6 separate regions of the Homo sapiens genome follow, and all the other regions are linked to region 1. Evidence: fine-mapped expression QTL. A gene starts in region 1. Each other region holds a variant in brackets. All regions are shown on one strand. Distances are from middle to middle.

Region 1 (4,089 bases):
CAGAGAAGTGATTGGCCAGGCCGGGTGGGGTGGCTCATGCCTGTAATCCCAGCACTTTGGGAGGCTGAGGTGGGTGGATCACCTGAGGTCAGGAGTTCGAGACCAACCTGACCAAGATGGACAAACCCTGCCTCTACTAAAAATACAAAACTAGCCGGACGTGGCAGTGCATGCCTATAATTCCAGCCACTTGGGAGGCTGAGGCAGGAGAATCGCTTGAACCCGGGAGGCAGAGGTTGTGGTGAACCGAGATCGTGCCATTGCACTCCAGCCTGGGCAACAAGAGCAAAACTCCATCTCAAAAAAAAAAAAAAAGGTGATCTGCCAAAGATCACAGAGTTGGTGGCAGAGCCAGGGTGGGAATCCTGACACCCCAACTTCCCTGCTTTTGGACACACCTATCTCATGGGTTGAACTTACTGGCAAGGAGTATTGGTTCCTGGGCTTCAAGGACTGCCCCGTTCCTGAGGCAGTGCACCAGGTGTGCTAAGCTTTCCCTCTTTTTCATGCTTTTATCATTGCTAATTGTGGGTGTGGTTGAAGATCTAGAGAAAGAAGGGGGACAGGCAAATAATCGCGGGCTTTGGAAGCCTAACTAAAGCTGAGAGAGAGACAGAGAGAGAGAGAGAAAGAGAGAGAATGAATATGAATCTGGGATACACAGAATTACTATTGACAGAGGTCCTAAAAGTATCTCTGATTATTCTCACAAAAACCTTGCAGGATAGGTATTGGCCTTATTTCCAGACTGATTGATTGAATCACTCATTCATTTAACATACATTTTCAAATAGCTGCTGAGTGGCAGACATAGTGCTAGGTGTTGAGGATATAGCAGTGAACAATTCAGAATATAGTCCCTGCCCCATGCAGCTTCCAGTCTAGTGCAAGGAAAGACATTTAAAAAATGATTTTACACACACACACACACACACAAATTGCAAAATATGGTAAGTGCCACAAAGGAATAATTTGCATTGCTAGGAATACAAGAAGTGGCTTGATTTAGATTAAATGACTAGGGAAGGCTTCTTTTGAAAAGTATCAATAATTGGTTAATTACTTAACTGAAGAATGAGGGCCTGGTGCAGTGGCTCAGGCCTATAACCCCAGCACTTTGGGAGGCCAAGGTGGGAGGATTGCTTGAGGCCAGGAGTTCAAGACCAGCCTGGGCAACATAGTGAGACCCTGTCTCTATTTAAAAAAAAAAAAAAAAGAATGAGGAAACAGGGTGAAAGGGGAATTGTTCAAGATTACTGGGAAAGTCACTATCTATCCACTCACCAACCATTTCAAGTTATTTTCATCGGGCTCTCTCACAAGGGCCTGCAGAGGAAGGAGCAACACTGAGTTGAGGAGGGGAAGGTTAATTTCATTGCTTAAGCTCTGCCAAGATTATCTAAGTGTTTGGTGATTGCTATGTGCTTTAAGAAAGGCAGCCAAGGGGCCGGTGCTGTGGCTCACGCCTGTAATCCCAGCAGTTTGGAAGGCCGGGGTGGGCAGATCACGAGGTCAGGAGATTGAGACCATCCTGGCCAACATGGTGAAACCCCGTCTCTACTAAACATACAAAAATTACCCGGGTGTGGTGGCGCAAGGCCGAGGCAGAAGAATCGCTTAAACCCAGAAGGTGAAGGTTGCAGTGAGCTGAGATCGGGCCACTGCACTCCAGCCTGGCGACAGAGGCACCATTTCAAAAAAAAAAAAAAAGAAAGGCAGCCAGGGTTATGCAGAGAGCCCTCATCTAGTTGGCAGGAGCTGCAGACCCCCACTCCAGTTGAAAGACATTGTCAATACTTAATTACTTTGGGAGAGTCCTTTCCTCTTGCTGGCCCTCAGTTTTCTGACCACAGGTGCCTTTGAGTCCTAATGGTAATAAAAGACCAATAGGTGAGAGACTGGAGTGGGAGTGCTGTTGACCACTGGCTCATGGGAATGAGTTATTTGCTTCAAACTAAGTCTGCAAATTACTGTTTGCCTTGAGATTCCGCACGTAGTATTTTTCCAAAGCAAGGCAGCACTCAGTTATCTGAGTTTCAACTTAAGGTCAAATCCCAAAGTTTTGGGGTCATTATTCTAGAAAAGCAAACACGAGGTTAGGAACTTTGAGGATTCCTGAGTGGCTGTATTCATTTCCATCTCCCGCGTAAATTAACGGACTAGGGCCCGCTTTGGCCCTCAACAAAGATGGCACCCGCCCTCGCCTCTCCCTAAGTGCCCTCACAAAAAATGGCAGCCGGCCTTTTTTTGTCTCTTATTTTTGCTTGGCTTAAGCACGGATGCTTTGCCCTTAGTTAAGATGGCACCTATCCCCGCTTCCCTGCCCGTCCTCTGGCGCCAGCCGGTCGGCTTCACTGCGTGCGCCTCCGTGACCCCGCCTCGTTTCCGTAGGAAGAAGCGCCGGGAAAGATGGCGGCGTCTGTGGTTTGAATTCCAGCGGCGCCGCCAGAGTCTGAACAAGAGCTGGGGTGGAGGGGGCGGGGACCTGGGGAGCCCGGCGGGTCGCTATCGCGGGGGGTACTAGTGGCGCCGCCGCCACAGACACCAACGCTGTCGCCACCTCTGTAGCCATGATGGACTTGGTGTTGGAAGAGGACGTCACCGTCCCTGGGACGCTCAGCGGCTGCAGGTGCGGCCGGGGCATTGGTGGTCGTGGTAACCGGGCCGGGGTTCCAGCTGGTGGGATTTCGTTCTAACGCGGCCTTGGGGTTTGCTCTTGAGGGTGTCTGGCCAGGGGCAGTGTGTGGGGTGGGTTCCTTCGGAGAGGGTCTCTGGGGGGCCCACCACCTGACACTCTGGAGGGCTGGGAGCCGCGACCTGCACCACAATTGCCAGTAGCATTGCGCCATGTACTTTGTAGAGCGTGTGAAGAACAGGTAAGGAGTTTTCTGAAAGAGTAGGACGAGGGTGGGGCCACTTGGAGTATCCCGTTAGTGGGGATTGGTGGAGAACAGGGACCTTGAGGGCACCTGATGGTTCCTTCTGGTTTGAGAGTTTGTTTTCATTATGGAGAGAGTGTAGCCGGTATGCCCAGACTTTGCTTTTTGGGTCACATAGTGGCCACCCAGGAGGCAATGGAGTGCAATGATTAAGAACCTTGGCTAGAGTTGGACAAAACTGGATTCAAATCCAGCCCTGTAAACTGACTAGCTGTGTGACCTTGGTAAAGTGATTTCACCGGCTTTCCCATCTGTAAAATGGGCTAGTAATATCCACCCAACAGAGTTGGGGTGAGGATTAAAAGAGGTGATGCCTGTCGAGCCATTTGCTTGGCAGGTGTAGTGCCTGCCACATAATCAGTGCTTAAAAAATGATCTTGTGTTGCCATTAGTGTCATTATTACTACTGTCATCAAAGGTGATATGAATCAGGGAATAATGGCCAAGAGTGGCCTCCCATGGACCTGCCCCAAGAGACTGTGGGAGTCCCCATTGCTGGTGGAGCTGGGGTCTGGTAGGAAGGCCTAACAGAGCGCAACTCTGCTCCACGGCTGGCCCCTGTGGTTGTCCTAGACTCCTGGTTGGAGAGTGAGTAGAGGGAAGAGGAGGAGAGCCCTGACGGAGAACCTGCACTGTTTATCCAGCTCTACTATGGACAAGCTGCTGCTTTTAGTCAACAGATCCTAATTGAAAGGGTGACCATGTTATTTATTGTGCTAACTGGGACACTTAAGAGTGAAAAGAGCCAGGTGCGGTGGCTCACCTGTGTAATCCTAGCCCTTGGGGAGGCCGAGGTGGGCCGATTTCTTGAGCTCAGGAGTGTGAGATCAGCCTGGGCAACATGGTGAAATCCTATCTCTACAAAAACTACAAAGATTAGCCAGGCGTGGTGGCATGCACTTGTAGTCCCAGCCGCTCGGGAGGCTGAGGCAGGAGGATTGCATGAGCCCGGAAGGTTGATGCTGCAGTGAGCTGTGTTCATGCCACTGCACTGTAGCCTGGGTGACAAAGTGAGACTCTATCTTTAAAAAAAAAAAAAAGGAAAGTGAAAATAATTAATATTTATGCCCGGGCAGCAGACATAAAGAGGGCCTATCTTGGGTAAACCTGGACAAATGGTTTTTCTGTTTATTGAGAACCTTCATGTATG
Region 2 (4,089 bases), 190 kb after region 1:
TGAGAACAGATTCCCTATCAGGCTCAGAACTCTGATCAAGAGGGGCATTCTTGCCACTGCTGGAGTTTGTGTTGGACAAGAAAAAGCCTGAAGGAAGACCCACCTTTACAGTTGCTCCTGAAAGCCAGGGCTCGCCTGCCCCTCCTGGGAATTCTCATGCACGGGGGATCTTTCTAGTACAGTGCTCCGGGCGTCAGTGTCAGCAGGGACCTCTGAAACCATCCCACCCAACCAGCTCTTGTCCAGGCAGAATGTGACTTGCCCAGAGGAATCAGGCTGGGCTATTCCACCAGCTAAAGGGCAGGCAAAGGAGAAGCAGCATGCCCACGGTTTTTTCTTCCAGGCCATTTGGAGCTGGCTCTAAGAGCTGCTGGGTAAAAACCTGGCTTCGTAGAACTTGGACCCTCATATGTGGGTCTGCCTGATCGGGGCACAGTCCCTTCCCACAGCTGCTTCCCAGAGGGCCTAGGAAACTAAAGAGTGCTGGGCAGGCCCAGGCCTCTACCCTCCCTGCGCCATTGCCCTCCCTGGCCCACAGAAGTGAGCCTGAGGGATACCTGGACAGCCAGGTGGCCGTGCACAGCTGTAGGGTGTTCTCTGAACCGGCATAGCATGCTGTAGCCTCTGCATCACTGTCAGGTGGTGGCTTAGCGGGGCCTCAAAGAGGTGTTGTTGATGCGTTATTTGGCCCTGGGGTTTGTGATGGGTCAGGTGGGCCCTTTGTACCTCCCTCTGGTCTGGATGCTTCAGACCTCGTGTTGTCTACATGTCCGAGCCCTTTGGGGTGGGGTTCATCCTCCCTGCACTTGGCTTTCACACAGCTCTCCTGGATATCCATGGCCCTAATCATTGCATTCTTTGCTCTCTCCTCAGTGGTCGTAACCCACAAAATCCTTCGGAAGGCCAGAGGAAACCTGGAGGTATGCCCTTTGAGTCTTTTCACTGCAGGCCAGTGGAAGGTCAGGAGGAGTGCAGGGCCAGAAAGGACCTCTTGAAAAATGAAGGTGCAGGTGGAACCAGGGGACATGTCCTCCTCAGAGAGTTGTTTCTGCCAGCAGTGCATGAAAAGTTGTGTTTTATCATGCCCTGTCGCCAGTAGGGGTTCTAAGTTTTAAATTTGTATGCTATTTTTACCAGTAAGAAATACAGCAAACAATGCTTGACACATAGTAGGCATTTGATGAATATTTCTTGAATGAATGAATACAGTATGATCTCATCGTTGTTTATTAGGTAAATATTTACTGACCAAACTATGTTTTTGAAAGCACTTTGAGAATAACAGTCTCGCTTTCACCTCTGTCGGGGTCTTACTTCAGAAACCTCCTTTGGACTTAAAATTCTCCTTTTTTTTCTTCCTTTTCCTAGCTTAGGCCTGGGGGAGCCCATCCAGGAACATGCAGTCCCAGCAGACCAGGCTCCTGAGAAGAACTTTCAGCCAATAAAGCTTGTGCTTCCCCCACCGAGCTCACGCTGTCTCTTTGTTCCAAGTGTGGTTCCTATTTATTGAGGAAGAAAGAGCTGTCTGGCCAAAGGAAATCTATTTTTTCCCTTCATGTTTTCTCTCTGAAAGTTGGCTTGAGAGTTGTTGTCAGAAAGGTGCAGGTGCTCCACAAACGGGTGGTAAAAAGGCCTCGAGCTCTTGGATGTTGTATTTCAGATCAGGGGCAGGCACCGGAGTTGAGGCTGTGCGCCTTGGTGGGCTTCACGTCTTCCCCTGGATTTGCTTAGTACTCAGCCAGTGCCACAGTTTGAAGATTCTCATTAAATGATTCATTTCATTTCACCTTGACGATTCTGTTGTTTTGTGTGG[C/A]GCCTCAAAGCCCAGGTCCCAAAATCCCAAGTGGGACAGGCCAGGGTTCCACGAGTCGCATGGCTCACTGCTGAGCTCGTTCAAGTGTCCAGAGAAGAGCACCTCCGTGCAGCGTGGCCATGGGCACTGGTGTGTGCTCAGCATCTCACAGTCTGCTGGACAGCAGCCCTTGCAGTGGTGCCATTCCCGATTTAGCAAAGAGCAGAGTGAGGCCCAGAGCTGGAATGTGGCATTTGCATTGTTCCCGTGATGACAGGGGTGTGTCATCAGCCATCCACATCGCTGCCTCTGACCAAGATGCCCCCAGCCAAAACACTTTAGCGGCTTCCCACTACCCTCTGATCCAAGCCCGAGCCCCTAACAAGGTTTACAAGCCTTGCTGGCACCTCCAGCTCCTTGCCCATCTCGCCTCCTCCCGCTCCACTCTGTGTTCCAGGCAAACGGAACAGTGTTCTCCCCAGTCTAACCCAGGCTGCGCCCTCTTGGACATGCTCCTCCCACCCTTTCTTTTTCTAGTTAGCTTTGAATGGTCCTTTAGAAATATTTTTTCTGCCCTTGGGGAAGCCTCTCCTGACCCGATACTAGGTGAAATGCCCCACCTCTGCTCCCGCAGCCCCCACACCACTGTGCAAATCCTCTGAGCCCCTGGAGAGCAGAGGCTTGTGTTGACCATGGAATTGCCAGCACCTGACCTGGCGCCCAGCTCCCCAGACACGATGGTGAGGGGAGGAGACGGGATTGCACTTGCTGGAAGCGTAGGGTGCAGCAGCCCCGGCTGGGAGTCCGGGGAGTGGCCTCATGCCACTTTGCCTGTCTCCCCATCCATTAAGAGAGGGGCGGAGGAAGTGGGCAGTACAGACCCTTTCTGCTTCGGTTCCTGCCATCTGTGCTCTTCCTGAGAAATATTTGCACAGGTGTACCTCGGTAGAATACGTACCAGTGTGTGAAAACTCAGATTGAGCCATAATGTCACTGGAGTGCCTTTCGCAAGCAGTCACAACAGTTGACTTCCTAAATGGAAGCTGGGTCGGTGTGGCGCTGTGGAGCAGGAGGCCTGGTTCCCGTCCCGAGTCTTGTGCTTCTGTAAATGAGAGTTACTCTTGTCCAGTACTGTTACAGAGTTCGGAGCCTCAGATTTTGAAAGCAGCTGAACAACAAGGCCCTTTCCACAAATCGGTGACTCTTCTTCACTGTCTCAGTGGCTGGTCTTAAGCAAGTTTTAAAGTACTGTTTTAAGTTCTATGGCTGTGTTGTGCCAAACCCCTATTAACCTCAGTAGGGGAGGCACCAGGTTCAAGGGGCCTGAGAAGAGACCCACAGAGCCAGCAAACAGGATGTGGGCTTTATTAGGGGCTTACATACAGGGGAACAGTCCAGAGGCGGCAGGCTGGACAGGAGAACTGCTTTTCGTACAGAAACAGATGGTTCAGTGGCAGCGGCTGAACAACACAGCCCACGGCCCAGGTGGGGCAGGAAAACCATCACCACTTATAAACAGCATGCAGTTTATATAGCATTTTCACTTAACCTTCCCCCAAGGACCTCTACCTGGGAACCTTTTTTTAACCCAAAACTCAGGGCCTCAGTTCCCTGTACAGCCCATGTCCCATGAGACGGGCTTGGGGGCTCAGATACTCCTCACAAACAAGGAACAAATCTCCGGGTTGGCCACTCCTAGATTCTCTAGCTCAGAACAACATTAAGACGCGTCTGCCATACAGGGTCGTTCTAAGGTTGTGCTTAAGCTATTGCTGTCAGGGTGTTTACCCTCCAGGCAGGTGTGCGCAAATGTAAGCATGTGTGGTTGCGGGGGCAGTGGGGAGGAGGGGAGGAGGTTGTACAGTGTAGTAGATGCAGCTCAGGCAAGGCCTGGAAGTCAGACCTGGGCTCAGATGTCCCCACAGGGGAAGAGTCCTACCTTGCCTGGCACATGGTCAGTGCACAGCCCATGGGAGCTGAACTTGGTCATTGGCAAGGGCTTGAGGTGCAGGGATTGGAGGAGAGATCCACATTGGATTCTGGTACATCCCAGGCCCGTCTGGTTGGTGAACCCAGGCACGCCTGGAGCAGGAGCTGCAGAGGAGGGGCTCCAGGAGCCCAGCTGGCCATTTGCTTCAGGTCACCCACAGCTTTTCAGGAACACAATAATCTAAAACGAAGTGCATTTTTATCCGCCAGTTTAGAGTCACGTAAAATACTTTCAACCTTGGGCTAGTGAAGGCCCTCCCTCTTCTGGGAGGTGGAGGAGCAGCCTGGTTTGTTTGGGCTGGATTAAT
Region 3 (4,089 bases), 150 kb after region 1:
TTTCTACATATGGCTAGCCAGTTTTGCCAACACCATTTATTAAATAGGGAATCCTTTCCCCATTGCTTGTTTTTCTCAGGTTTGTCAAAGATCAGATAGTTGTAGATATGCGGCATTATTTCTGAGGGCTCTGTTCTGTTCCCATTGATCTGTATCTCTCTTTTGGTGCCAGTACCATGCTGTTTTGGTTACTGTAGCCTTGTAGTATAGTTTGAAGTCAGGTAGTGTGATGCCTCCAGCTTTGTTCTTTTGGCTTAGGATTGACTTGGCGATGCGGGCTCTTTTTTGGTTCCATATGAACTTTAAAATCATTTTTTCCAGTTCTGTGAAGAAAGTCATTGGTAGCTTGATGGGGATGGCATTGAATCTATAAATTACCTTGAGCAGTATGGCCATTTTCACAATATTGATTCTTCCTACCCATGAGCATGGAATGTTCTTCCATTTGTTTGTATCCTCTTTTATTTCATTGAGCAGTGGTTTGTAGTTCTCCTTGAAGAGGTCCTTCACGTCCCTTGTAAGTTGAATTCCTAAGTATTTTATTCTCTTTGAAGCAGTTGTGAATGGGAGTTCACTCATGATTTGGCTCTCTGTTTGTCTGTTATTGGTGTATAAGAATGCTTGTGATTTTTGTACATCGATTTTGTATCCTGAGACTTTGCTGAAGTTGCTTATCAGCTTAAGGAAATTTTGGGCTGAGACAATGGGGTTTTCTAGATATACAATCATGTCATCTGCAAACAGGGACAATTTGACTTCCTCTTTTCCTAATTGAATACCCTTTATTTCCTTCTCCTGCCTAATTGCCCTGGCCAGAACTTCCAACACTATGTTGAATAGGAGTGGTGAGAGAGGGCATCCCTGTCTTGTGCCAGTTTTCAAAGGGAATGCTTCCAGTTTTTGCCCATTCAGTATGATATTGGCTGTGGGTTTGTCATAGATAGCTCTTATTATTTTGAGATAACGTTCGATCAATACCTAATTTATTAAGAGTTTTTAGCATGAAGGGTTGTTGAATTTTGTCAAAGGCCTTTTCTGCATCTATTGAGATAATCATGTGGTTTTTGTCTTTGGTTCTGTTTATATGCTGGATTACATTTATTGATTTGCGTATATTGAACCAGCTTTGCATCCCAGGGATGAAGCCCACTTGATCGTGGTGGATAAGCTTTTTGATGTGCTGCTGGATTCGGTTTGCCAGTATTTTATTGAGGATTTTTGCATCAATGTTCATCAAGGATTTTGGTCTAAAATTCTCTTTTTTGGCTGTGTCTCTGCCCGGCTTTGGTATCAGGATGATGCTGGCCTCATAAAATGAGTTAGGGAGGATTCCCTCTTTTTCTATTGATTGGAATAGTTTCAGAAGGAATGGTACCAGTTCCTCCTTGTACCTCTGGTAGAATTTGGCTGTGAATCCGTCTGGTCCTGGACTCTTTTTGGTTGGTAAGCTATTGATTATTGCCACAATTTCAGATCCTGTTATTGGTCTATTCAGAGATTCAGCTTCTTCCTAGTTTAGTCTGGGGATAGTGTATGTGTCGAGGAATTTATCCATTTCTTCTAGATTTTCTAGTTTATTTGCGTAGAGGTGTTTGTAGTATTCTCTGATGGTAGTTTGTATTTCTTTGGGATCGGTGGTGATATCCCCTTTATCATTCTTTATTGCATCTATTTGATTCTTCTCTCTTTTTTTCTTTATTAGTCTTGCTAGCGGTCTATCAATTTTGTTGATCCTTTCACAAAACCAGCTCCTGGATTCATTAATTTTTTGAAGGGTTTTTTTGGTCTCTATTTCCTTCAGTTCTTCTCTGATTTTAGTTATTTCTTGCCTTCTGCTAGCTTTTAAATGTGTTTGCTCTTGCTTTCCTAGTTCTTTTAATTGTGATGTTAGGGTGTCAATTTTGGATCTTTCCTGCTTTCTCTTGTGGGCATTTAGTGCTATAAATTTCCCTCTACACACTCCTTTGAATGTGTCCCAGAGATTCTGGTATGTTGTGTCTTTGTTCTC[G/A]TTGGCTTCAAAGAACATTTTTATTTCTGCCTTCATTTCGTTATGTACCCAGTAGTCATTCAGGAGCAGGTTGTTCAGTTTCCATGTAGTTGAGCGGTTTTGAGTGAGTTTCTTAATCCTGAGTTCTAGTTTGATTTCACTGTGGTCTGAGAGACAGTTTGTTATAATTTCTGTTCTTTTACATTTGCTGAGGAGAGCTTTACTTCCAACTATGTGGTCAATTTTGGAATAGGTATGGTGTGGTGCTGAAAAAAATGTATATTCTGTTGATCAAACATTTCTGTGGGCCAGGCCTTGCATTTCCCCTCTTCCATGATTCCGTTCAAACCATTATTTTTTTCTGTAAGACTTCTACTCCCTTTCCACTTAGAGAAATTAGAGAAATTCTGCCTATCCTCCAGGAATCTTTCTTTGTTCACCTGAAGTGGAAGCAAAATTTATTCTTTCCACCCCCTCCCACCCCCGGTTTGTTTATAGCTTGCACTTGATATTCACATCTGAGTTTGTGATAGAGGCTGTTGCAAGGGTGTTGGGTTAGAAAGAACAAGACCTTTGGAGTCAGACAGACTGGAGTTCAGATCCCAGCTTTGTGGGTCATTTATCCTTTGAAGGGCCAGATTTCCTCTATGGGGGAGAGCAGTACCTGTCTTATAGAGATGTTTGTGAGAATGAAATGACATTATTTAAGCTTGTCCAATCCGTGGCCCATGGGCTGCATGCAGCCCAGGACGGCATTGAATGTGGCACAATGCAAATTTGTAAACTTTCTTAAAACATTATGGATTTTTTTGTTTTTTAAGCTCATTGGCTATTGTTAGTGTATTTTATGTGTGGTCCAAGACACAGAGTGGCCCAGGGAAGCCAAAAGATTGGACACCCCTGATTTCTCTCATTTTTAAATTTCTGGCCAAACAAAAAACCCAATAGACACTCCTGATTTGAAGGGTGTCCTGCCTTGACAAATAGGGGGAGCTCAGGAAGATACATCAACCAAAATTAAAATTGTAAATCCTACAGCTAGGTGAGGGGACCCTTCCCTCAGCTAAGGGAACCCAACAAAACCTTAAAAACTAGTTCAGACCATGATGGGAAAGTGGGGGGCGGTCAGACATGCCTCATTATACTCTCCTCCCTTTGGAGCTGGCACACAGCTGACCAGTATTAACACTAAAATAGAGATCCTTAGGCTGACTGAACAGACTCTGTAGCAATAAGAAACCAAATTCTAACCTGACTCCATTATAGCATCACATGACAGATTGCAGGGCTCTGAAAGAAATCAAAGTATTGTACCCCAAAATATATTTCTTTGACATGTTTTGAAATGGCCCTGAAATGCTGTCTCTTGTAGGGAACACTTACATTCTATAGAGAATCCCCTTCCCTTTCTCCTTTTCTGATCCTGAAGAGATTGGCTGAGAGTCCAGCACCTTTTAACGATCTGAATAGGAAATATTTGCCTCTGAGGATGGCCACCTCTGGGACTTCATCCACATAAGAAAAGCCTTGGTCTCTGTAACCCCTTAGCTTAACTCAGACACTCCTTTCTATTAATTCCAGGTCTTTAGATAATAACTCTTTCAACCAAGTGCCAATCAGAAAAATGTTTGAATCCACCAATGACCTGGAAGCCCGCCACCCACTTTGAGTTGTCCTGCCTTTCCGGACCAGACCAGTGTATACCTCACATATGTTGATTGATATCTTTTGTCTCCCTAAAACATATAAAACCAAGCTGTAACCCAGTCACTTTGGGCACATGTTCTCAGGACCTCCTGGGGCTGTGTCACCTGTCATGATCCATAACCTTGGCAAAATAAACTCCAAAACTGGTTGAGATCTGTCTCATATACTTTTTGGCTTACAGTGGCAACAATAATAATGGGGCATGCATGTCATGGTTAACAGAGTGATGCAGGCTTTCAGAGAAAATGGAGGGTTTTTCCTCCTAAGAATCCCTGGAACTGCCCTCCCCAGAGTCCCTTAAGTGTCTTCCCATCTTTATAAAGCAGTTCTTCCCTCCATCAAAGATATGGCTCCATTGCCACCTCCCCGAAATGTTCCTTGATGGTCCAGGCCAG
Region 4 (4,089 bases), 110 kb after region 1:
TATCAAGAATTGTCTGATTTTTGGCAACAAAATTGATTACTCAGGTTTTAAAATCATGATTACTCAGGTTTTAAAAATACTTTATTATATATTTAGAAAGTGCTTCTATGTGTATTATCTCATATGATCCTCACAGCCTTTCTGTGAAGTAATAATAATGCTATCCCTGTGTTTTCTATAAGGTCATGAAAACTAAGATAGGGTAAGTGACTTGCTCAAAGTCACACAGATGTCAAGTGACAGAACCCTGGGACTCAAGCAAGTCTCCCTATCTCTGCAGAATTGCTGAAATGAGTTGCTGCCAGCAAGGTGTGGTGGGGAGAGCCAACTCTAGGATAGAGGCCTTGTTCTAGCCCTGACTCTCCCACTTTCTAGCTCTGTGTCCACAGGCAAGTGCTGCTCTGGGCCTCTGTCCATGTGTCTGTACACACAGGGTTGGCCTCAGGGACTTCTCAGAATTGAGAAGTCCTTTTTTTTTTTTTTTTTGAGATGGAGTCTTGCTCTGTTGCCCAGGCTGGAGTGCAGTGGCAGGATCTCGGCTCACTGCAACCTCCGCCTCCCGGGTTCAAGCGATTCTCCTGCCTCAGCCTCCCAAGTAGTTGGGACTACAGGCACATACCACCACGCCCGGCTAATTTTTTGCATTTTTAGTAGAGATGGTGTTTCACCATGTTAGCCAGGATGGTCTTGATCTCCTGACCTCAGGATCCACCCACCTCCGCCTCCCAAAGTGCTGGGATTACAAGTGTTGGTCACCTCTCTCTACACAGTGGGATGGGTACAGCTGAAAGGATATGATGTCTGGGATTCATTTCCAAACAGTGCAGAAGCTGAGGACGTGGGTGGGAATATCAAAAGAACAAGATTGGCCCTGGCTCTCTGATTGTTGGGGCTGGGGTATGTGTAGATGGGGGAGAGGTTCATTACAGTAGTTTTTTTTTTTTCCTTTTGTATATGTCTAAAATTTTCTATAATGAAAAGTTAAAAAAGAATCACCCCTCATTTCTCCCTCTCATATGTCCTCTGCTCTTACCATAGTGAGCTCTTTATCGTTCCCTGGGCTGTGTGTTCCTGCCTGTACCTTCACCTGTGTTTCCTACCCTTCTATTCCCAACCTTTCCCCTACTTTGTCTCCTCCCAGTCCTTTAGAATTTAGCTTGAATGTTACATTTGTCAGGCAGCCCAGCTAATCCCCAAAACAGTTGCCTCTCTGTGTTTCTGCCCTGCGTGGGGAGGTCACCTTCTGTAGCCGTCTGTGCCTGCTCTGCCTCCTCACCTGTGTTGGAGCTCCCTCAGGGCAGGGGTCCCACCTTACTGTCTCTGCTCCCCAGGGCCTGGTACAGAGTAGGCATTTGGGAAATGTTCTGTGCAGGAATGCCCCTCCCTGCCATGTTGATCTTCTAAATTATGAGATAATTTCCAGATTTTTTCATAGGAAATGAGTTTAGGGAAAATGAAAACATGCTGCTGAAATTCTGGGAGTAGGCGTCACTCTCTGAAAGTGAGTTTTTTCAAGAAACCTCAGCTGCTGGTCATTTTCACTTGGCAAGTGGTGTTGGGGGAGGTGGGCGGTGGGAGCGAGCAGTGGGGGGCACTGGGGGTTGAGTCGTGTGGAAACTCACAGAGGGAGTGGACACATTTCATTTCAATTGCGCAGCTTCTCTGGGTAGGAGCCAGGTTGATTCTGGGTACTGAGAGGCCTTGTGGGTGGATATGGTTGCTCCTGAGTCTTCTCAGCTTCATGAGGGGCTCCCAAGTTTCACAGGCTCTTTCTTAATGAATGAAAACTTGGATGGGACTGAGGCGGGTCAGGGCTAACTCGGACTAACAAAGACTAACCGGGACTAACAAGGTTTCTTAAAAGGCTTCCTGTTCATCTTCAGACTTGTAATACATTCAGTGGGAGACAGACCTAGGTCCACATCTCAGCTCTGCCACTCAGCAGCCCTGAGCTCTTGGGTAAGTAATTTCTCACCCTGAGCCTCAGTGTGTTTGTGAAATTGAGATTGGCTGGTCTGCCTACTTACCTACCTACTTAGATGTCTACCTGCTTTACAGGGTTGTGTTGAAACTAGAGAGGACACTGTGTAAAGACCTAATACTTCCTGGCATGTAGTAAGCACTCAGTAAATGGTAAGATTTCTTAAGAA[T/C]AATGACAGCATGAAAAGCTTACATATGTCTCAATATTTCATCATGCATAAACTTAGTTTACAGGAGGTTTTTGAATCCTCAGACCTTGGCATATCCAGAGGGCAGAATGTGGGCTAAGGAAGGTAGAGCTCTCTTCTGTAACTCCAGCACTGTTCACTCTGGAAATTGACAGGAAAGGTGGATGACCCTGAAGACAGATGATGTACTGTGATTAAAACTGGAAAGGGAAGTCAAGAAGGGAGGAAACTCATTGTGAGCAAGAATGTGGCTGATCCTTTCACTTTTACTATTTATTCTTCACAGCAGCACTTAGAAGTTGGTGGATGATCCCCAAATTACAGAAGTGGAAATGTGCATTCTAAGACACCCGGTGTTCCGCAGTGAAGGATTATCAGTGCTTAGGTCGTCTTGGCTCCCAACCCAGGTTCTTGCTGATACACTCCCCATCTTGAGGACTAGCACAGTTTCCCTGTAACTCAGGATTTCTCAGCCTCAGCAGTATGAGGCTTTGAGGCTGGATAATTTTTTTGTCATGAGGGCATGTCCTGTGCTTTGTAAGATGTTTAACAATCCCCGGCCTCTACCATGGGAGGGTCGGCACACCTGATCCTCCCATGGCAGTTGTAACAACCAAAAATGTCTCCAGACATGGCCAAATGTCCCCTGGCGGGTGGGGGCAAAATCATCTCCAGATGATTATCATTGCTGTAACTCATGAAAATCAGCAATCTTGGCTCATAAATATTGTCTTCTGTATGGGAGTTGTTAGAGTATGTGGAAGGAAGGAAATGATGTTTGTTGAGCATCTCATATGTGTTAGCCCCTGTCCTAACGTCTTTCCCATGTAATATCTCATTTATTCCTCAACACAATCGCAAAGCAAAGGTATTATTATTCCCATTTTGCGTGAGGAAATCAGGACTCAGTTAGTTGAACTGGCTTGCCCAGTAGTGGTGGCGTGCTATTTTGAGCTTCGATCTCTCTAACTCCTTGTTTCTGCTCCTGTCTGCCCTGCCCCAGTTCCAGGAAGAGGAAGGTTTTTGTTTTTTTCTGAGTGAAGCACCTTTTGTTCTCCCAACTCCTCACACCTTGAAAAGATTCTCAAGTTGGGAAAACATAAATGACAGACACAGGAGCAGCAGCTGTGTACTTTTCACCCTGTCAGAAAATGGAAGAGGGAGTGAAGCAGTTAGCTTTCCCCAGCCCTAATCGCAGGAGCTTCTCTAAAACAGTCTCTTTTTTTCTCCCTGGTTAAATGCCTCTGCAGCATGACTGCATCCAAGCGAGTGCTGTGCTGTGACACCTCTGTGAGGTTTTTCATCAGCCTTACAAATTGATCATTATGATTGTCTTAAAATGGAACTAGATACAAGTTGCTAGTAGGGCCCTTTCCCTTGCGTGAAGACTGCTTCACAATGAACTGTCCTCAAAGCAGCAAGCATAGAAGATTAGACATAATGGTTTATTTTCCTTCCAATGTGTGTTGATTTATGTGTGCAGTCCGATGGATGGAGCTGGAAGTCTCTGAAGGAGAAGCGGGGCTTCTTTGAGGAGTCTGGCACACATATTTGGAGTAATTGCCTCTAACCATTCGGGGGCTATTGATCCCTTTTGAAAAATCTGATGAAAGCTTATAGGCCCTCTCCCTAGAAAAATCCACAAATTCATTCATTTTTTGCAGATAATTTCATGGCATTGATGGACATTTTTAGGGAACCATAGATGCTAGATGGAGAATGATAGATCTCTTGGTATCTAAAAAAGAAGGCTTTCTGATTTGTTAATGTGTTTCAGTAGTCTTAAAGATGTTCATATACTTTGACCCAGTAATTGCATTGCTGGGAATCTTTCTTAAGAAAATAACCTGGATGTCAAACAAGGCTTTAAGCACAGAGATGGACAGTGAAGCATTATTTATGCCATTCAGATGTCAGCTGG
Region 5 (4,089 bases), 130 kb after region 1:
GTGCAGTGGTGTGATCTCAGTTCACTGCAGCCTCCTGGGTTCAAGCCGTCCTCCCACCTCAGCCTCCCGAGTAGCTGGGACTACAGTCACATGCCATCATCCCTGGCTAATTTTTTGTATTTTTTTGTAGAGATAGGGTTTCACCATGTTGCCCAGTCTGGTCTCGAATTTGTGAGCTCAAACTATCTGCCTGCCCTGGCCTCCCAAAGTGCTAGGATTATAGGCATGAACCATGATGCCTGGCCTGGAGTCACCTTTCTGAAGCACGTGTGTGCCTGGCCCAGTCCATCGCAGGGCCTTTCAGTGGCCTTCGTTTTTTTTTTTTTTTTTTTTAACGTGTTGTACAGGACTCTTCGTTTCTTCCCTGCTCATCTTTCCAGCCTCACCCCTTCTTGGCTACTTGACTCTGTTCACGTTGTTTTCCATGCTTAGACTGTTCCATTTCCTCTCCTCGAGGCTTGCCTCTCACTGATGTTAGAAGCCCTCCGCTGTTGTTCTCCCTGCCACCCCCAGTCTGGGGCACTCTGGGATGGTTGCCCTGTAACCCTCATAGTTTGTTTACGTATGTTTCTCTAAAACCAGTCCATGTCCTCCTGGGACAGTTTTGTATCCCCAGTGCCCACTGCAGTGCCCAGCACAAGAAACACACAAGGGGCTCTTCTTGAGTTACTCCACCCGAGCACCATTCCAGGTGTTTTACATGCTGGCTTAGTTTTGCTTCCCTGGAAAGCAGAGCCTGAGATATGGATTAGAGTGTAAGGGATTTATTTGGGATTTGACATCAGGGAGCAGGAATGAGGGCTCAGGGAGAGTAAGACAGGAATGAAAGCAAAGTCAATAAGGGTGCAATAATGATCTGGTTACTGCTGGGGACCCTCTGAGGGACTGTATATACTGTGCCTGTGTGGTCCGTCTGAAGGATGGGAGACTGGGACATTTACCCAACAGCTGTCTTCTCTCACTGGTTGAGAGTTTCCCCAGAAATGGAAACTGTTTCACACTTCCACACTGCTTTACTGGCTTGCTCACAGAGCTTTGGAAAAAGCCCCAAGGCAGCAGAGACGTAGAGGGTGTTTGAGGTGGGACTATGTCTATGGGAACTGTCCACACAGCCGCAGCTGAAGTCAGAGGTGGGCCAAGGGTATGTGGCAAGGACATGAAAAGCATCTGCTGCCTATACACTATCTTGTTTAATCCTCATAGCTGTCTTGTGGAGGAATACTTATCTTCTTTTCAGAGAATTGTAGAGTTAGAATATGAAGGGATTTGTATCCATCTTCAGAGCCAATGCGCTTTCTACTCTGCCTGTGTACAAATATCCCTTCATTAACACCTCTTTATTAAGCACCCATTGTGTACCAAGATGGATTAGGTCATCGATGGACCAGCCAGGTTGGCCAGATTCATCTAAAGCCATACTTGCCCCTGGATGTAGAAATGGGGCCAGGGCCAGGAGGTTGGCTGGCGGGGTAGAGTCAGGGAGGACCCTGTAATTGTCATGGTCACCTTATAATCCCGTTTGTTTCTACCTGGGCCCAGCCTGCATTCACATATTTATGTGGCCCACTCACTTGCTGTGTACCTTGTGTTAAATTAATTCTATTCTTCTTATCCATGAAATGACATGGTAGTACCTGCTTTGTTTGGGTGCCGTGAGGTTACACAGGATAAAATACTGGATGTGGGCCCTGGCACGTTGTGGGTACACACTGTATTTAGTTTTGATGGAATCTGGGCAACAGTAGGTGGGGATAACTTGGGATACTGGCTAGGGGACAAGGCCTAGCAGAAAGCTTGGTTCTCCCACTTCCTTCCCTTTTGGAAAAACAGGCCAGACCTTCTGAAAGTGGTACGGGAACTGCTTCTGGGACAACTATTCTTGACAGAGCAGGAAGTTTCTGGAGAACACCTTGATGGTAAAACTGAGAAGACACCTAAGCAAAAAGGTGAACTTGTACATTTTGTCCAAACCAACTCATTTTCCAAGCCACATGATGAACTGAAGTTGTCTTGTGAGGCCCAGCTAGTAAAGGCAGGCGAAGTGCCCAAGGTAGGACTGAAAGATGCCTCAGTGCAGACTGTGGCCACGGAGGGCGACCTGCTGAGATTCAAGCATGAAGCAACAAGAGAGGCTTGGGAAGAGAAACCGATCAACACTGCACTCAGCGCAGAGCATCGGCCAGAGAACCTGCACGGGGTGCCTGGGTGGCAGGCTGCCCTCCTTTCCCTCCCTGGTATTACCAACAGAGTAAGTTTTTCCATGTAATAATTATGTACTTACT[T/C]TATCCAAACAAAAAACTTTAAAAATCACCTTTAATCTCACCACTTTTTTCCCATTTATATGACAAGAATGTCCAGTGTCTCCCTCTGCTTGCACTTACCCTGGCCTCCACCCAGAGCTGCATGTCCTCACTGACCTTCCCCTGCCTCTCCTTCCCCTCACTCCCTCTGTCTCTCTTCCTCCATCTCAGCCCTATCTAATTTATCTATATATTGTGACATTTATGTGTTTTCCTTAGAAAAAACACACGTGAGGTCTTGTTTATACATCTGTCTATCTGTCTGTAGCTGTCTCTTTCATGTTATGAGGAACATCTTTCCTTGTAATGGCTACATAAGGTTGCATTGTGGAGATGTCCCAAAATTTATACAGTTTTCATTGTATTGATGAACATTTGCTTTTGCAGGTTGCAGTCAAATTGTCATAACCTGACTTTAGGGGTAGGGATGAGAACCTAGGTTTTATCTTGTGCAGACTTTGTGTAGGAGAGGTATTATTCTGAGGGCTTCATCTATATTCTTTTATCCTGACAACACTCATCAAAGATCTGGAAGCCACACCCCATGTTCCCGTTGTTAACCGGTGGTTAAGGGGCTGAGCTGGGACTCCCACTGTACCTGACTGCACAGCCACACCCTTTCCCTGGATCAGGCTACCTTCCAACCCGGGTTTGTTGAGTGAATGTTTGCATGTTGATTTTCCTTCAGCTTAGATACTGTCTCTAAGCTCTGCACATCCTATCAAGTATGCCAGATTGTTAAAACCAGATTCTTTTGGCAATGTTTCATTGGACCCTTATGAAAATCCTCTTGAGGTCACGGCTTGACCCCCCCACGGCCAAGAATCCCTATAGAAGGGAGATGTGTTCTGGGAGAGAAGGAAATAGGTCGTGTTTCTAATAGTGGTTCAGTGAAGGCTGTTGATATTCTTGTTTCTGATGGGTGTTTTGTATTTGAGAAATCAACTGTACACACTGCTTTATAGCATCAGAATGGAGAATTAAGTTTATTTTCTGACCACTAAATTACTGCTTTTGCGCATACAAAAGAGAGTTAGATATATCATTAGCAAAATTGCTTTTGATTGTTTTAAATTATGCACCAAAACTGTAATTTCTAGAAAAGAGTTTTCTAAAGATATCAGTAGAGACCAGAGAGAGAGAGAGAGAGAGAGAGAGAGAGAGACTGCCATTATATTAACGGTACTAGAAATGCAAATTTGTGCAATTTGGCTATAATAGAAATGCTCTCATCTGCCCCAGCTCCTTCAATTTGTACCTGTATATCAGGAAAACTAGGTGTCTTTTGTTTGTTTGTTTTTTTTGTTTGAATTTTTCATTGTGTGAGAGATGTTATTCTGTGTTCAGGAAAACTGGAGAATTGAATGGACTTAATTTCCCCAAATATATTAAAATATGTATTTTTTTAGTTTGAAATTATTCCTCTTGCTATGTCTTCAAAAGGAAGGAAACCGTATTTGTTTATTATTATTTTTAGTATCTATTAGGGATTGTGCTAGATACTCTCTGTTTGTCTGTATATATATTATATATATAATATATAATATATATAATCTCATTTAATATTCTCAACAAGAGTATGAATTTGGTAGGTATTACCTACATTTTACTTATGAAGAAATATAGGCTCTTAAAAGGCTCAGAAAACTGTCCAGAGTGATTTAGCTGGTAAGTGGAGTGACAGGGATATAAACTAAAGTCTGGTTTTAAATGCAGACAGGGATATTATAAACCTGCCTTTCTCTGGGAGAGAAGAGCCCTCCAATCACCACCATGGCCTCCAGTCTAT
Region 6 (4,089 bases), 120 kb after region 1:
TATTGAGCGTCAGGCATTGATGTTAAAACTATGAGCACACATGTCCCCGCCCTGTCTAGGATGTAATCCAGAGAAGCAGAGGGGCAATTGGGGCAGAGTGTGGTGAGGGCTGTGATGGAGTGAATGCAGAGTCTCAAGGGAGTTGTAGACAGGTGCCCAGCCCTCACTTTGGGGATTAAGGGAAGTTCTCCCTGGAGGAGGAAGAGGAGCTGCCAAGCAGATGAAGAAAGAATAGCTCAAGAGGCAGGGGGAGAGGCAGTAGAGTGCAGAGTAACAGCGTGGGGTTTCAAGGAGGGAGTGTTTCATAGTGTCGAACACTCTGAGAAGCAAGAAAGAAAAAAGTACTGAGAACTTCCTATGAGTCCCATGACCTGAGCAGTTTCATTAGAGTGAGGGGGACAGAAGCCAGCTTGCAGGGGATAGAGAAGTGATGAGAAGTGATGAAATGAGGATAGAGCCAGTTGACACTTGGAGGTTGCTTCTTTAGTGGTGGTAGGGCTGGAAGCCGAGCCAGGTATAGTGACTCAGTTCTTTCTGACATCTTAGTTCTGGATCTTTGAAAATGAGTAAATAGCATGCAGCATGAAGTATGTTTCTCTATGTCCATAACATTTAATTTCTTGACCATTCCTGGAAACCGAGAGTTTACTTTTAATCTTGACCACGTCAGCAGAGGTAAAGAGAAATGAAAGTTAATTTTTATTTAACTGTGTCAAGCATTGGCATGGTTGTGGTTCTGGAAATGCAGAATAACTTTGACGCTTTTCATATTTCAACTTGGAATGATGTGTTAACAATACTTTCTTTGCTCAGCTAAGCTTAGAGGAAACCCTTCTCAGATCCGCAGGAGTCTGGGAGGAGCTTCTCCGTGCCTCTTTCCTAACCCCATGTGGATTTCATCTCTCATTAATACAACAAGGTCTTTGGGGACCTTTCCTGGGCAGTAAAGCCACATTGCAGAAGGTGAGAATAGACCCCTTGCAGAAGCTTGGAGAGAGGCAGAGAATACTGAGTGGCCAGAGCTGTTGGGGAATCAGGGGGAGACTTTCGTTGTTGTTGTTGTTTTGTTTTTTGAGATGGAGTCTCCCTCTGTCACCCAGGCTGGAGTGCAGTGGCGCGATCTCAGCTCACTGCAAGCTCCGCCTCCCGGGTTCATGCCAGTCTCCTGTCTCAGCTTCCCAAGTAGCTGGGACTACAGGCGCCCGCCACCATGCCCAGCTAATTTTTTTAATTTTTAGTAGAGACAAGATTTCACCATGTTAGCCAGGATGGTCTCGATCTCCTGACTTCGTGATCTGCCCACCTCAGCCTCCCAAAGTGCTGGGATTACAGGTGTGAGCCACCGTGCCTGGCCCTGTTTTGTTTTGTTTTTTAAAAGATGGGAAAGACTTTCTCCTAATATTTTATTATGAAAAAATTCAGACACAGTGAATACCCATATACTCACCACCTAGGTTCTATTCACATTTCCCACCTGCCCATCATCACTCTGTCTCATCTTTCTAATAAATTTTAATTGAAACTGCAAACATCAGTATACTTCCCCCAAGTACTTCAATGTGCATATCTTCAATAAATGCTTATAGTCAAATGAACTATAGAAATTGTAAGCCTGCGTTCACTAAGTTTTACAAGTGTATGTGCCTGTGTAAGGCAAACCCCTATCAAGAGCCTGCATGTCCTCTGTTGTCCATACCCAGTCC[C/T]ACCCCAGCTGCTCTTCTGATTTTGTCCCACTATGGGTTAATTTTGCCTAGACCTTCATATAAATGGAGTCATACAGTATATTCTCTTTTGTATATATTCTTTTACTCAGCATTATGTTTTTGAGATTCATCCATGTGGTTAGTGCATCAAGTTTGTTCCTTTTTATTGCCAGGTAGTATTCCATTGCATGAGTGTATTACAGTTGTTTATTCATTCTGCTATTAATGGACACTTGGGTAAAAGGTGATATGGGCATTCATGTACAATTCTTTGTTGGGACACACTTTTTTTTTTTTTTTAATTTGATGAGTACCTATGAGTAGAATTCCTGAGTCATAGGATTACTCGTTTTATAAGAAATTGCCAATACTTTTTCCAAACATTTTATATTCCCACCAACAAGTTTGATAGTTCCAGTTAGTCTTTATCACTCGAGAATGTTATGGTAATGAGGGAAGAAGCCAAAAGACAAAGAGGGTTCCTTACCCATATTTATAGACTTTTATGCTTCAGTAGGTATATTTATGCACGTCTAGTCTGTTTCATGCTGGATAATATAGTAGGATGTGGTTTTTGATCATCACTTCTGTTTGATCCTGATTGCAGATTTGGATATGGTCAGATTGAACATGTTCTGACCCTGGGAAGTTTCTATAAAAACTGAACTCAGTTGCCTTTGTTTTGTTTTTCTTCCACAACAAGGTTGTTCCTCTGAAAGGAAAAACAGAGAGTTGGGCTGGAGAGCTATGGGGATAATTGACTAAATGTAGGGATTCAGAAATAAAACTTGAGCTAGAACCGTAGGTATCTCACACGTACAACATGCCCAACAAATGACCCAATACTCTGTGGTTTCAGCACCTTCGGTGCAGACTCTTTTGTTTTGTTTTTGCTTTCGAGACAGGGTCTTACTCTGTTGCCCAGGCTGGAGTGCAGTGGTGTGATCACGGCTCACTGCAGCCTCGACCTCCCTGGGCTCAGGTGATCCTCCTGCCTCAGTCTCCCGAGTAGCTGGGACTACAGGCATGTACCACCACACCCGGCGAATTTTTGTGTTTTTTGTAGAGACAGGTGTCTCACTCTGTTGCCCTGACTGGTCTTGAACTGCTGGACTCAAGCAATCTGCCTGCCTAGGGCTCCCAAAGTGCTAGGATTACAGGTGTGAGCCACCGCACCTGGCCAGACTCTTTTATTGGTCAGATAAGGTTTGGTATAATTTTGACATAGCTTTGATTGATTCCTTATCCGGGAGTGGCTGGCCACCTTTTCTCTCATTTTTAATTTGGTTAATTCAGGTGCCCCATGACTAGAATTTTTGCTTTTGCGGAGAGCTGAGAACTGGCTTTCTTGAGAACTTTGTACCGTCCATTTTGTAGAACTCAGAAGCTTTGGGATTTACACTTCTTTGAAGCATTAGGGATTTATGCAGTCTTTATAAATAACTGTCCTTCATTTCCAAAAGCATAAAGTTATCGTCACGCAAGCGTGATACTCTTCTCATTAGAGATGAGGAATTTCTGTCAGCAAAATGACAGTGTTGCCAGGACTGTCCATCTCAGATGTGTGACAGTCCAACAAGAAGAGGTTTATGCCTTGCGCTAAATAGAAGTGATGCATAAATTGGGCACACCATAAATTTCATTTATTACTTTCTTGCTGTTTGATATTTTCAATTCCATCAATAGCTATTTTCCAAAATCTTGTTACTTTTATATAATCTGAAAGTGAATTTAGTAAAGGCAGGAGTGGCAGTGGCATAATAGACGGCATTTTTAATTTACGGCAGCTCAGGAAAGGCCATGCAAGGGCAAGGGGCAATGCCTTTAGTTATTTTCTTGGGGAATTTGTCCTTAAATTATGCTTGATCCAGGCAGCTGTGTCTGATTCGCCACAACTAGCAACTCTAACCTTGGTTAATTTTTATTTCATGGCTTTGGCATTTGTTTCTTCCTCTTTTTTGTTTGCTTTTTGTTTTGCATTAAAAAAAAAAAGACATCACTGACTTATTCATACATATTCATGCTGCACACTTTTTTGGGTTGCATTTTCACACCATTCCATGCTCCATGTAGCTTCTGGCTAGCAAGGAGGACGAGGACACGATCAAAATTGGGGAGGATGACGAGATTAATTTCCTGAGTGACCAGCATTTGCAGCAGAGTAATGAGGTAGGAACCTTTCAGTTAACTCCTTATTTCATCTACTCCACTCTATGTCCAAATCAGTCTTCGAGTCTGGAATGAGTCCAGTGGGTTTTCTGTTCATTCTGCCTATATCCTGTACCTTTCATGTGCCAGTGGAAAGCAAAGACTAGGTCTTTTCCTTCTTATAAGTTATAAACTGGGTGACAGAGCCAGTCATGAAACATGAAAACGAGCATAAACT

What was found.
Region 2: its variant is fine-mapped to the expression of CDK5RAP2 in testis (GTEx, PIP above 0.99). The same link has a PIP of 0.9 or more in B cells, CD4 T cells, CD8 T cells, NK cells, ileum and monocytes.
Region 3: its variant is fine-mapped to the expression of CDK5RAP2 in tibial artery (GTEx, PIP 0.95).
Region 4: its variant is fine-mapped to the expression of CDK5RAP2 in whole blood (TOPMed, PIP above 0.99).
Region 5: its variant is fine-mapped to the expression of CDK5RAP2 in whole blood (INTERVAL, PIP above 0.99).
Region 6: its variant is fine-mapped to the expression of CDK5RAP2 in whole blood (TOPMed, PIP 0.94).

What each region holds. Positions count from the first base shown.
Region 1 is chr9:120,578,460-120,582,548 of GRCh38, reverse strand. It overlaps CDK5RAP2 (CDK5 regulatory subunit associated protein 2), which reads left to right and starts at 2,382. Exons shown (of 38, transcript NM_018249.6): 1 at 2,382-2,629. The coding sequence starts at 2,571. RefSeq lists enhancers at 2,165-2,294, 2,148-2,710.
Region 2 is chr9:120,386,572-120,390,660 of GRCh38, reverse strand. CDK5RAP2 (CDK5 regulatory subunit associated protein 2) reads left to right here. Exons shown (of 38, transcript NM_018249.6): 37 at 874-920; 38 at 1,369-1,786. The coding sequence ends at 1,425. Among named protein-coding and RNA genes, the nearest start is that of MIR147A, 140 kb to the right of the region's middle. RefSeq lists an enhancer at 56-556. The variant C/A (reference allele first, on the strand shown) is at 1,814.
Region 3 is chr9:120,425,978-120,430,066 of GRCh38, reverse strand. All of the region lies in intron 25 of CDK5RAP2 (CDK5 regulatory subunit associated protein 2), which reads left to right. Among named protein-coding and RNA genes, the nearest start is that of CDK5RAP2, 150 kb to the left of the region's middle. The variant G/A (reference allele first, on the strand shown) is at 2,009.
Region 4 is chr9:120,473,076-120,477,164 of GRCh38, reverse strand. All of the region lies in intron 15 of CDK5RAP2 (CDK5 regulatory subunit associated protein 2), which reads left to right. Among named protein-coding and RNA genes, the nearest start is that of CDK5RAP2, 110 kb to the left of the region's middle. The variant T/C (reference allele first, on the strand shown) is at 2,151.
Region 5 is chr9:120,451,615-120,455,703 of GRCh38, reverse strand. It overlaps CDK5RAP2 (CDK5 regulatory subunit associated protein 2), which reads left to right. Exons shown (of 38, transcript NM_018249.6): 21 at 1,831-2,248. Among named protein-coding and RNA genes, the nearest start is that of CDK5RAP2, 130 kb to the left of the region's middle. The variant T/C (reference allele first, on the strand shown) is at 2,283.
Region 6 is chr9:120,460,355-120,464,443 of GRCh38, reverse strand. It overlaps CDK5RAP2 (CDK5 regulatory subunit associated protein 2), which reads left to right. Exons shown (of 38, transcript NM_018249.6): 19 at 3,777-3,872. Among named protein-coding and RNA genes, the nearest start is that of CDK5RAP2, 120 kb to the left of the region's middle. The variant C/T (reference allele first, on the strand shown) is at 1,704.